Linked DNA regions of Homo sapiens: all the other regions are linked to region 1. The links come from fine-mapping of genetic effects on gene expression. A gene starts in region 1. Each other region holds a variant in brackets. All regions are shown on one strand. Distances are between the middles of the regions.

Region 1 (4,247 bases):
AATTATAACTTAATATATTAGTGTTTCTCAAATAGATGTAGATAGAAGCTGGATATAACCTTATGTTATACTACAATACTCACATTAAAATGTTCATGTTTGGTGAGTTTAAGGATTATGTATATCATGCTTTTTAGAAACGTTGTTTTCCCTTTTTAAAACATTTCATTTTTTGCCACTTTTAGGAGAGCTAATGTCTATAATTTTTCCGCAGCTATAGCTTTTAGGTATGAATACATTGTTATCAGTACTTGCTTTTGTTTTGTTACACCACAAAAGGGACAAAGTTTCAAAGTTATACGAATTTAGAAACAATTTCACATTGAGTCTTGGGTTACTCTTTGTAACTACTTTCTGATATTATCAGAGGAAAATAATCATACAACTTTAGTCCTTTATGAAAATCTGTTTTTAAGATTATTTAGCAGAAGGGCCAGTAATAGGGAGAGCTAAGAGGATACGGTGCTCAAGGTGCTCTCAAACTGAGGTGTTAAATACATATTCACAAATAACTCAAAAATAACCACTGTTAGAAGTCGGTTAAGGAATCAGGAGACCCACCAGCTACTTGTTTGCCTTTTTAAGTACATGACTTTTAGGTTTGAAGTCATATTTCATCTACTGAGCTTGAGGGAAAGATGACCACTTTGAAGGTAATCAGGGAAGTCACAGACACAACTATTGTGTAATTCAAACCAATAAATTTTCCCATGATCTCAGCTTTTTGGCTCATTGCATATTTAGGAATAGTAGTGTTGATAACAGATGGAGCCATGAGAAATCTTTAGTGTCTGACCACAGATTTCCACTGGCCTAAGGGAAGTTACTTTAAAAAATATTTCAAGGTTTTAAATTCATACATTAATAAATGCTCACAAAGTTCCAATGATGTTGTTTCATTAAACAGCAAATATCTTCCAGAAACAGGGCATTTCAAAATACAGTTTTTGTTTAAAAAAAAAAAAAAGCATTTATGGTAAAGCTCAGCTGACAGTCTGTGGACAGATGCACAGGTTCCAATAAAATTCAGGACCCCAAGGGTTTCCCCAGCTCTTGAATTATTTAAAATATACACGTAGTGTTGTAGTAGTTAAGTTTTAAAACGGTGCCTCAAAACTGGCTAGTTAAGGTACATTATTTACGAAAAATATATTGTGGAGGTGATTTTTCACCATCTCAAATGTCTGCGGAAAACTGTAGCTTGGTTATCTAGCAGTGGTGAATGAGTTGATTCTCATAGTCGACCAAAACCCAGGCCAACAATTTATTTATCTTTTTAGCTTTGCTTAAGAGTAAATGAGGAAAAAATTTCCATGTAAGGAAAAATAAGTAATGTAGTATGAATTACAGAAAATGCTGAGTCTCTTTAATTTCTATTGGTTTAAATAAAAAAACTCCACACACCTATAAATTTGAGTTCTCTTTCAGAAGAAACCGCTCCCCGCCTCGCCTCAGGCAGCTCTCTCCTATTCCTCTACTAACCAGTTACTTTAATCTGAGAAACTAATTTGCACTCAACTTGTGAGTGCCTTCACCTTCAGGGCAGAAGAAACACCGACTTTTAATGCATTTTTGCAAATAAATCATTACAATTTAATCACACACGACTCTATACAGACACACTCCCATGATTTATTATCGTTGGGCGAGTTTCCCCCTCCCCCAGCGTGAGATAACCAATTTTGTTTCGGGTAGGTGTCATAAACAAAACTTCCTACGATGCAGATTTGTTTACTGATTACCCATGACGATAACGACGACTACTAAGACAATAACACTCTCCAGTCCCACCTTTATTGCTTTTGGTAACAATAAAATCAAAATAAACAGGCACGCAAAACAAACGCCAAACAAAAAATCGGCCGCGTTACAATCTACTCCCTCGGCATTCCCAGCGCCTGGCAGCGTCCATCGATGCACTCGATATCTCGGCTGAAGCTGCCTGGCGCTAGAACCAGGAAGGCGCTGAGCTTAAACTGAAGCAAGTTCGGTGGACGCCGGCGGCGCCCTGATCTAAAGAAACGACTCAGGGACTGCGGCGCTTGCACGTCAACGGGAGGTGTGAGCCCAAAGGTCTGGACCCAGGTGATGCCCACGACCAGGGCCTGGGGAGCGGCAGCCGTGGCTGCGGAGCTCCGAGGCCCTGATCCGGCGAGAGGCGACGCGGGGCCTGGCGCAGTTTGCGGCTCAGTGTCTGTGGAGGGTGGGCTGCGGCCTCGGGGCGTGCGCAGTGTCACCGTGCGCATGCGTCCCGCACCTGGGAGGCTCCGGACTCCTTGGGTCAAGGCTGGTGGCTGTAGGGTGGGTGGGTGGCCGCAGGCCTCAAGCTTGGCCTTCTGTCTTGAGGACATGTCGGAGAGTTCGCCGACTCCTCCCCTCGCCCCACGTTCCTGGTTCTTCATAGCTGCTTTTGGGTTTCCTGGCTCATCTTGCAATATAAGCCTGGCGCTTCCTCACTAGCTCTAGGTAGGGTGGAGCAAGAGGGAGGCTGGATTCTGGTGCCCTCTATCCCATCCACTCCACTGTCCCTGCCTTAGATCCAGCTCTCTTTCTGATTCCGCCCTACCCTTTCTGGCTCACACTGGCTTGCTGAGAGAAGTGGTGCAGGGTGAAATAGATGTTCCTCTCTTGAAATATAAATATGCTCGCCTTAAACACACTATATATTCCTTTGACTTCTGTACTGGTGGCATGTGACCAAGAGCATATGGCTCTGTTTACTTTTGCAAGATGTTACAATGCACCGTAAGGCATGTTGCCTGCTCTTGATTTTAGGTTAACCTTGACGTAATTTCTCTCTCAGAGGTTGTGTATCTTTAAATGCACACTGGAAACCTAAACAAAAAAATATTTTTTTACACTTTCAGAATTAGCAGTAACCCAATTGTGTTCCAGCTAACTAGGTAGTAGATAAATAAATTCAAATGTCTTATGTTGTCACAAGAAAGCATTCGAGTTGTCATCTTTGAACTTAGATGTATTATAAAAGTTCTAAGTGAAGGAGGTAAGCAGAGTTCCCAGGTTTAAGATTTGGAGCAGGTGTGACAGTTGCAACCTTGGGGGAAACTAGGTATCCTTTAAGAGCCTCTCTAGTCTTAGAGTTTATAAATATTCACTTTCTTTGCAGGCAAAGATTTCATGCTAAGTGATATAACACTTTATGTTTTTCAATAAGAGGGCTAAAAATGTCAGAATCTGAAACGACAAAAACAGCTGGCACCTTCTGTTAATTGGCCTTGCCAACTCAACCAGTCTCACAAAGAGGGGTGTTATGAATTGGAAAAGTTCTGAAAGCGGGTTGTTTATAGTAGATCTATAGTTGTATTTCCTGCTTTCATGTTCAAACCATTGGGGATAAATTCCTATGATTGATCATGCTTTTTTAAAAAGAGAGATGCTTGCAAGTTTTTAATTGTGATGGGAGAAGTGTTTTGACAGAATTCTTTATCTCTTTTGAGATAAAGAGTTGTGTACTTGTTTATGGATTTCTTAATATGTTAGTTTTCACCCCAGTTTTACTTTTCTTCTTTGAGGTGGATTTCCCATTGAAATAACCATTGTTTTCACTTTTTCTGGCCATGTGTCCAGAATCAAGAAAATTATAGTTTGATATACTGAGTGAGTAGTGGAGAAGTAATTATAAGCTATCATGTCCTTTGGAAATCTTTGTTCTTCAAACTGATTGCCTGTTTTCTGAAAGAGATAACTGCTTCTTGTACCCTTATCAATAACTGGACAAAGGAACTACTTGTGTAGTCCTTTGAGTTCTCTTTTCTTGAATGACCACATGTTGGCTTTACCTCTTCAATCAGGCACGTGAACTTTACATTAAGATATTTCTGTAAATTGATCTCCTCCTGTAGTCATTACATGCCATGGCTTCAGTTCTGTAGTGGGAGTTGTTGGGTGAGTTTTGCAACCACGAGGCTACAACCAGGAAGAACTAGAGTGAGAACAGGAAACCAAGAGCTATAGGAGCTCTGTCCCATGTTGTCTCTTTCACCTACAGATAGATTGAAAATTGTCAGCTTGTAGGACTCTAAAAGCCTGTGCTCCATTCATCATTCATTGCCCTTATCAGAAAGAACTATCAATGTGTCTTTCCATTCATTGCACCTTACTGGTGGAGTTAAGTATAAAGAATTCTTCCTTACTAGGACTATGTAATATAAATTGATTACCATGTCTTGAATTGGCAAGTATATTTAATTACATGCTGATGATATTATGGAAATCCAGGGGTAAGT
Region 2 (4,247 bases), 25 kb after region 1:
TGATTAAGTATGCCCAGTACGTTGGGATCAGCCTAGAAATAGACTTAAATGTAGTTTTGTTCTTGGAAATCCTCTAGTTTTGAGATGAGTGTAGAGTTCGACTTCTGGAATAAACGGATATCTGGAAACTAGAAGATGAAGTAAGAAGAGAATTTCTTTAAGGAAAATATGAATGTTACATTTATTCTAACTCATTTTATTTTTATTGTGAATGTATTGAATGTCCCTTTCATATCCAAATGTAATATGAAAAACTAATTTATTGTTTAAAGTTTAAACTATGCATGAAACAGTTATTGAATTTTAAATTGGGGATCACTTTAATGAAAACATTTTAATATCTAATTATGAAAATTATAGAAATGATCCAGTTGATTTTCTATTTTTATTTTATTCTTTTATTAACCTATTGATCTTTATTTTGTCTTGTATCTGAAAATGAGAACAAAATATGTGCTTAGAGAGCAATTATTTATTTTATTGAGGACATATCTTAAAAGTCAAGAAGTGAAGCTGCTTGGTAATGCTATAAATTTAAAACTGTCCTACAGCAAGACAGTACGATGCAAATATGACTAAATAAGATCACAAACTGAATTTCAGTGAAACAACCAAGATTTACATTAAATTAGGAATTTTAAAACCAATTTAGTTTGTTTTACTGAGCATTTGCTTAATAACATTTTGCCTTCTTGCAATCTTTTTAAAGACAATAATTCGTCTGTGAAATGCAGGCATATCTTCAGTAGAAAAATTGAAAGCAACAGCTCACTTTCTGAAACCACACATATGGCGATATAAAGAAATATTTCAGCTCTACAAAATTTAATAAATCATCCCATTTCCTAATTTGATCATATTAGATGCTGATGTGGAAGAAGCATTTCAAATACCATCTTCTCATTAATATACATCAGTCTGGGGAATAGAATGGAATACTTATGCAGAGATGTCACAGTTACTGTTTCTTAGTTTACTAAGTGGAACAGGTTGAAGTGATTCTGGGTGCTATTTGTCAATGTCTTGTTAAAATGGTTTGGGTCGAGTTATGGAGTCCAGAAAGACGGCGGCTGATAAATCAAAAGTGGATTGAGTGGACAGGAGGCAGTGATTGATACTGTGACAGGATATGAAGAAAGGAACCTTGATACAAGCATGCATGATATTGAATATGAGAAAGAAAATGGCCCTGGAGTATGGATATTATTCAAGGAAATGAGAATAATAATATCAGCCTGAAAATATTGCTGAGTGAAGATTAGGATAGTTCTTATTAGAGCATAATACTTTACTAGGATGGTAGGGATGAAATTATGTAAATATTTGTGTGAGAAGAATATTTTAACCTATGACTGAAGACTCTTTAATGATTATTTATTCTTTACAGTAGTTTTAGCTTCATTTTTTCCTAGCTAATTATTATACCGTGTATTTATAAGCATCCTAACTAGTAAATTAAAAATTTTTTTCTTTTAGATTATTTCAAAGATCATCTACCTTTACAACATGCTTTTATAGAATAATAGTATTCAGAGATTAAACTTGTTGTGTAAATAGTATTTTACTATCAGTTGGTTTTGACTTAGAAAATTGCATTGTTAACTTGAAGTGAAAATCTGCATTGCATAGTTTGCAGCATCCTTTAGATTAGTCATTTTGAATAGCAAATGAAAGATGCCTGACAGATGAGCCATTTCACAAAGATCAAGGCTGTTATATACTGAATATTCTTTTGCGGAATTATCAGTGAAATGTTAGTTGATGTCACGGAGTTCTTGGTGGGAATCTTTTGATTAGTCTGACTTTTGTCCTTGGCAATGTGTAACTAGGAAGAACTTTCTTTTGCTTTCACTCTAAGAGTTCTATATCTAACACTGGCAGAAAAAGAGGTTCTTTGGAAAGGTATTCAATTAACTTTTAATTATATAGTCTATGAGAGACAAAGAGATGTGGAGTTGTCACGTTAATTGTAACCATAATATTTGATTTTTATGTACTGTCTTGTCATCTTAAGTACTTAACACTATAGCACAATTTTTGTTAAGTGTGTAAAACATTTGAAATGAGGCACTGTGAAATATTTACCCAGGTGACTTACATCAGTGGTGATTAATTTATTGATAATTTTTTTCTAGCTTTTTATAAAGATTCTGGTAAATGTGCATAATACCCCTAAATTCCTTAAAACTAATTTAATTACATAAAAGTTGTTATTTTTGGCTTATCATCTCAATATTTGATGAACCAAAATACC[G/A]TACCAGCTAATAACATAATATTTGAACTTAGTGTAAGTTCTTAACTGTGCTGTTTACTGCCACATGTTGTTTTGTGAGGCTCAGAATGTGTTTTGGATATTAGCAGAAGAGAAGTAGTCATTTCCAAATTATAGTGTAATTTTTTTTTTTTTTTGAGACAGAATCTCGCTCTGTCACCTAGGCTAGAGTGCAGTGGCGCAACCTCGGCTCACTACAACCTTCATCTCCTGGGTTCAAGTGATTCTCCTGCCTCAGCCTCCCGAGTAGCTGGGATTACAGGCATGCACCACCACACCCAGCTATTTTTTTTTTTTTTTTGAATTTTTAGTAGAGACAGGGTTTTACCATGTTGGCCAGGCTGGTCTCAAACTCCTGACCTCAAGTGATCTACACGCCTAGGCCTCCCAAAGTGCTGGGATTATAGGCATGAGCCACTGCGCCCGGCCTATAGTGTAAATTTTTAATGTTTTTTTTTTCTGGAGTTTTCCCTCCAATTTTTTTCTTCACATGGTAGCCAAAATGCAATGCAAAATGCAAATCTGATAGGACCTCCTTTATTTCAGTGGTTTAGAATAAAACCCAAAATGTTGACAAGGCTTTAAGTCCCTTTGTGATCTGACTCCTTCCTGCCTTTTCAATCACATCTTTCCAATGCTAGTCATACTTGTAGTGTTTAAACAGTTTTCTTTTCCTGTCTAAGGACCCTTGAACATGTGGTGGTTGCCTCTGCTCAAAATGTACTTTTCTCCCACCCATGATCTGTAATTAATCTTTTAGGTCTTTACTTAAAGACATTTCCTTAGGCTGGGATTTCCTTAGGCAGAATTTTAGCAAGCATGGTAAAGCAGAGCCCACTTTGTCAAGGAAACATGGATATGCATGCAGTCTTACTCATTTTCAACGTATAGATTGAGCTGTAAGCTTGATCATAATCACTCCTTACTTAATTTGCATTTCTACCATGTAGAAACTAATTTGAAATTATAGAAGGTGGCATTACAGACAAGAGATAGCATGGAAAGAGCTCTGAATCAGCCTGAGTCTCAGTATCTTCATGTATAAAGTATTATGCTCATTCTAGTTCTAATTTGATTCGAAATTACATGAAAATAAGTTTCATAATGTATATTATTTAAATTATTTTAAAATATCATTTTTAAGTTTTTTAAAAAACTAATTAGATGTACCTATTATTTTGCCATGTTACCATGCTCTAAAATAGTTATAATTAAATCCGCTAAAAGGAACTGAACAATTACATTGATGCTATTGCTTGCTTGGTAAACTTCTACTTGCTCCCCTACAGAGCTCTAGTTTGCACTGAGCTAAATTCTTATTCTGTTGTATATTTGTAATGAAAATGCTTTTTGTATGTGAGTTTTTGTTTATCTGATTAATAGCTTTCAGAGGTGGCTGTGAGGTCTTATAGAGGTACAGAATTTTTAGGGCTAAAAGGTTATTTTATACTATTTCTTTTAGGTGAGGGAGCTAAGACTAGGGAAGATAAGGTAAGCAAGTAATGGTGGCAGAAATGGTTCTGTTCAGTGTGTGGTGACTTTATGGTTTTCTTTTTGCAGAGTGTTTTTTCTTTTTTTTCCTTTCCCCCTCCAGTTTTTCAATGGGTGTGGAGATCATGCAGGAGCAATAGAGAAAACGAGAAAATTGTGGACGAGCAAAACTGGGCAACATTGTTCTTGGACAGATAGTCTGAAAGTGAGCCGTTTGCTTGAGGATAATAAGTTGAGTGTAAGATGGGTCACACATATAAGTACAAGAGGTTATCAATTCAAGTTCTAAAAATCTGCTCTGTTCTTGTAAGGACACTGTTAAATAAATGTGTGTTTCTATCGTTCTTTCATTTACCTGAGGTAGTCCATTTTAATAAAATTTATCCAAAATAAAGAAGCCCAGACCATGAGTCTAACCATGTATGCAGTTAATTTTTATTCAGGTCACTATTTATTTTCATTATTTCCTCAACTGGAATGAGCA
Region 3 (4,247 bases), 580 kb after region 1:
TTCTATGTCTATCTCAACTCTATTGATTGGTTTTATAGTTCATTGAAAATCCTCAAATAAAATATAATTATTACTGAAATATGTTTAATATTTAAGGGGAAAAGAGACTAATTTCAGTTATACTTTTAAGCTTAGAATGTATGTTCATTTCCAAATTTTGTATCATAAGAGTTTTCAACATAGAGAAAAGCTGAAAAAATGCAAAGAATAACCACATACTTTCCATCTACCTTCCTTTGTTAACGGGTTGTTTATCATATAATAATTTGTTTTGTCATATTTGCTTTCACTGTCTATTATCTGTTTAAGTCTCATAACTCTATTTTTAGTTTGCTGAAGACTTGAAAGTGAATCGCATATATCATGACACTTCTTGGAGTGTCATTAATGGGCAGGCTTTTCTGTTGAAGAGTGGATTCCGTATGTTCTTCATAGAGAGTGTTTTTCAGATTCTTCATTGGGATATTAAAATATTAGCCAAATTTCTCTCTGTTTTATATATGTCTGTTTATTTCAGTTTGTGGTTTCTGCAAATTTGTAACTGCCTCTGTTTTAGGAGTATAAGTATTACTTCCTTGTGGTCTATTGTGAAGTAAAAAGTAGACCCTTGCATATACTATTCTTGTTTGTGTTCATCTTAATGTTTTTGTACAGCTAAATCAAATGTAATTTATAGAGTTAGTTTCATCAACCTAATGAATGCTAGTTAAATTTGAATTCCTTGGAATTTATCGTATATTGTATTCACTGAGATTATGAAGGGACAAATGTTAATCTTTTGTTTCCAGAAAAAGTTGGGCTTTCCCAAGCAGTTCTATTACCCGGTTCAGAATTGCTTCATCCAAAAATCATCTGATGGTATAGATGGATCCTAGTCCTTTTCATTACCTGATGGTAGAAATAAAATAATTGATTTTAAATTCCTTTGCTTTTCTTGACTTATAGACGTGGCTTTATACTTTAAGGTTTCTAGGGGAAAAAGATCTTTAAAAAGTATTGAGCACATGTTTTCAAGGCATTTGCTAAATACTTTTTTTTTTTTAATTTTTATTTTTTTGTGGTAGGGTCTCACTCTATCCCCCAGGCTGGAATGCAGAGGGACTATCTCTGCTCACTACAACCTCTGCTTCCTGGGTTCAAGCAATTATCCCATCTCAGCTGCCTAAGTAGGTGGGACTACAGGTGTGCGCCACCACTCCCTGCTAATTTTTTGCATTTTTTGAAGAGATAGGGTTTTGCCATATTGCCCAGGCTGGTCTCAAACTCCTGGGCTCAAGCTCTCTGCCTGCCCCAGCCTCCCAAAGTGCTGGGATTATGGGCATGAACCACCATGCCTGGCTGCTAAATACTTTAAATGCATTGTATAATTTCATTCTCACAACCCCGAGAGTAAGTACTATTATTATGTCCATTTTGTAATAGAAGAAGCACAGATAAGGTAAATAACTTTAATGAGACCACAAAACCTAAGTTTTTTAATTGATACTTTAATTACAATTATTCACCAAGTGCATTTCCCCCATGAATGTCTGTTGCTACAGTAGCATCAGGTCTGAAAAAATGTGGTTGCTTTGGCATTTCCTCAGCATCTTGTGACATTCACAATAACTTTGAATATTGTTCCTAATGAGGAAATACATTCTGTGTACCTTCATGGAATTTAGCATGATTCCTATGGCTATTGAGAATAGTCACAACTACTGGAACTAAACTGGATAAATAAGTAAAAAACTTACTTATTTTTAATTTGTAAAACATCCTGGTTATAATGTTACAGTGTTAGAAAAGGTCCTAGATATTTAATCCAACACCAGCATTTCATAGGTAATGATTCAGGCCTAGCTGGTGGGAGTAATTAGAATAGGTTCACAAATGGACAGATCAGGACTAGAACCCACATCTCTTTCTAAGTCATTAGTTATAGTTGGCAAAGATCACATACCAACCAAAGTCTGTAGCATGGAAAAAAATTAATGAGAATATTCATAGGTGAGGGTTGTTTATACTACTATCAAGAAGGATAATTGTTGGCTAATTCAAATATTACATCCTTGTATTGGACAACAGTAGCAGCACTAGGTAGTATTGTACTGATTCCCAACCCTCACTGTACTTTAAAAATCACTGGGGGAGCCTTAAAAAGAAATACCTAGGCCTACACCCAGATATTTAGATTATTTGGCTGGATCAAGATAAAAACTTTTTTGGGTGATTCTAATATGCAGACAAAGTTAAAGACCGCTGAAATATTGCCTGCACTGCGCTTAAGCCCAAGACATGAAATGAAAAATCTGTGAAATTCAG[G/A]AGTGTCATATTGTATTCTTTTGTGTGATATTAGAGTTTGGTTTTTTTGTTTAACAACTGTTTTTTTTTTTAAGAGATGGGGTCTTCTAAGACAAAAACCATCTGACTCAGCAATACCATTACTATATACCCAAAGGAACGTAAATCATTCTATTATAAAGACACATGCATGCACACATTCATTGCAGAACTGTTCATAATGGCAAAGATATGGAATCAACCTAAATGCCTATCACTGATAGACTGGATAAAGAAAATGTGGTACATACACATTGTGGAATACTATGCAGCCATAAAAAAAGAATGAGATCAAGTCCTTTGCAGGGACATAGATGGAGCTGGAAGCCATTATCCTCATCAAACTAACATAGGAAAAGAAAACCAAATACTGCATGTTCTCACTTATAAGTGGGAGCTAAATAATGAGAACACATGGACACACAGAGGGGAACAACACACACTGGGGCCTATTGGAGGATGGAGGGTGGGTGGAGGGAGAGGATCAGGAAAAATAACTAATGGGTACTAGGCTTAATACCTTGATGATGAAATAATCTGTACAACAAACCCCCAGGACACAAGTTTAGCTATGTAACAAGCCTGCACATCAACCCCTGAACTTAAAGAGATGGGGTCTCGCTGTGTTTCCCAGGCTGCTCACAAATTCATGAGCTCAAGCAGTCCTCTGGCCTCAGCCTCTGGAGTAGCTGGGACAAGAGGCACACACCACCATGCCTGGCTTGATAACTTTACCTTAAAAAAAAAAGTGTTCCTATTTATATAAGCTTCCAACTGACTTTCAAAAGAACTTGTTCAACTTCTAAAAATTCGTAATTCAGGTAGGAAGAAAATGAAAGTATGAATAAAATAAAATGGAATGTAGACAAAATCCCTGGTATTATTTTATATGTCTTAAGAAAGTTCTAAAGGTATTAGGAAAATGAATGTCAAGCTGTATGTAATTGTAATTAGCTAAGAGTGATTCAGAATAATTTAGACTGTTAATGAAAAGAGGACATAGGGAATAGTTTTTCATTTTATGCCAAGTGATTTTTCTGTTTTATTAGCTAGTGAAACCAATGTTGGTAAAATTAAGTTAACAATTTTAGAGTTTGTGCTAGAAAAGATATTCTGAGGCCGGATGTGGTGGCTCACGCCTGTAATTCCAGCACTTTGGGAGGCCAAGGTGGGTGGATAACCTGAGGTCAGGAGTTCGAGACCACCCTGGCCAACACGGTGAAACCCCGTCTCTACTATAAATACAAAAATCGTCCGGGCGGGGTGGCTCACGCCTGTAGCCCCAGCTGCTCAGGAGGCTGAGGCAGGAGGGTCGCTTGAACCCGGAAGGCGGAGGCTATAGTGAGCTGAGATGGCACCACTGCACTCCAGCACTCCAGCACTCCAGCCTAGGCAACAGAGTGAGACTCTGTCTCAAAAAAAAAAGAAAAAAAAGAAAAGATGTTCTGATGGTGATACTGATAAATTTTTAGTTGGTTTAACTTTTTGGGTTTTGTAAATTAATAAATTAGGTAATTGTGTTTGTATATTATTTGTATGTATAGAATTCCCCCTCATAATCTATTGTACTGTAATAAATCTGCTAAAAGGTTACCTTAGAAACATTACCTGGTTGGATTATGGATGTGTTTGTGAGCCTAATCTCAGTAATGAAAAATGCCTTTAGTGGCTCATGCCTGTAATTCCAACACTTTGGGAGGCCGAGGTGGGAGGATCCCTTTAGCCTAGGAGTTTGAGACCAGCCTGGGCAACATAATCAGCTGGTGTGGGACATCCTGGGATAGATAACCATTTCCTTCCAAAGTCAAGATAGCTGCCCAGTGAAGATCAAACAAACAAACAAAAAAAGGAAAAAAGAAAAATGCATTTATGGGGATGAGGACTTTGAGAAAGCTCCGACTCTAGAAAGCTGAAACACCAAGTAA

Evidence for each region. PIP is the estimated chance that this variant, and not a neighbour inherited with it, causes the effect.
Region 2: its variant is the best candidate, but not a certain one, in a credible set for the expression of RSRC1 in whole blood (INTERVAL, PIP 0.60).
Region 3: its variant is the best candidate, but not a certain one, in a credible set for the expression of RSRC1 in whole blood (INTERVAL, PIP 0.58).

The regions. Positions count from the first base shown.
Region 1 is chr3:158,108,139-158,112,385 of GRCh38, forward strand. It overlaps RSRC1 (arginine and serine rich coiled-coil 1), which reads left to right and starts at 1,951. Exons shown (of 10, transcript NM_001271838.2): 1 at 1,951-2,085. RefSeq lists enhancers at 1,612-2,113, 1,915-2,264, 2,114-2,613, 2,475-2,524.
Region 2 is chr3:158,132,879-158,137,125 of GRCh38, forward strand. The region is part of intron 3 of RSRC1 (arginine and serine rich coiled-coil 1); the gene reads left to right. Among named protein-coding and RNA genes, the nearest start is that of RSRC1, 25 kb to the left of the region's middle. The variant G/A (reference allele first, on the strand shown) is at 2,255.
Region 3 is chr3:158,691,653-158,695,899 of GRCh38, forward strand. It overlaps GFM1 (G elongation factor mitochondrial 1), which reads left to right. Exons shown (of 18, transcript NM_024996.7): 18 at 1-3,929. Among named protein-coding and RNA genes, the nearest start is that of LXN, 21 kb to the left of the region's middle. The variant G/A (reference allele first, on the strand shown) is at 2,305.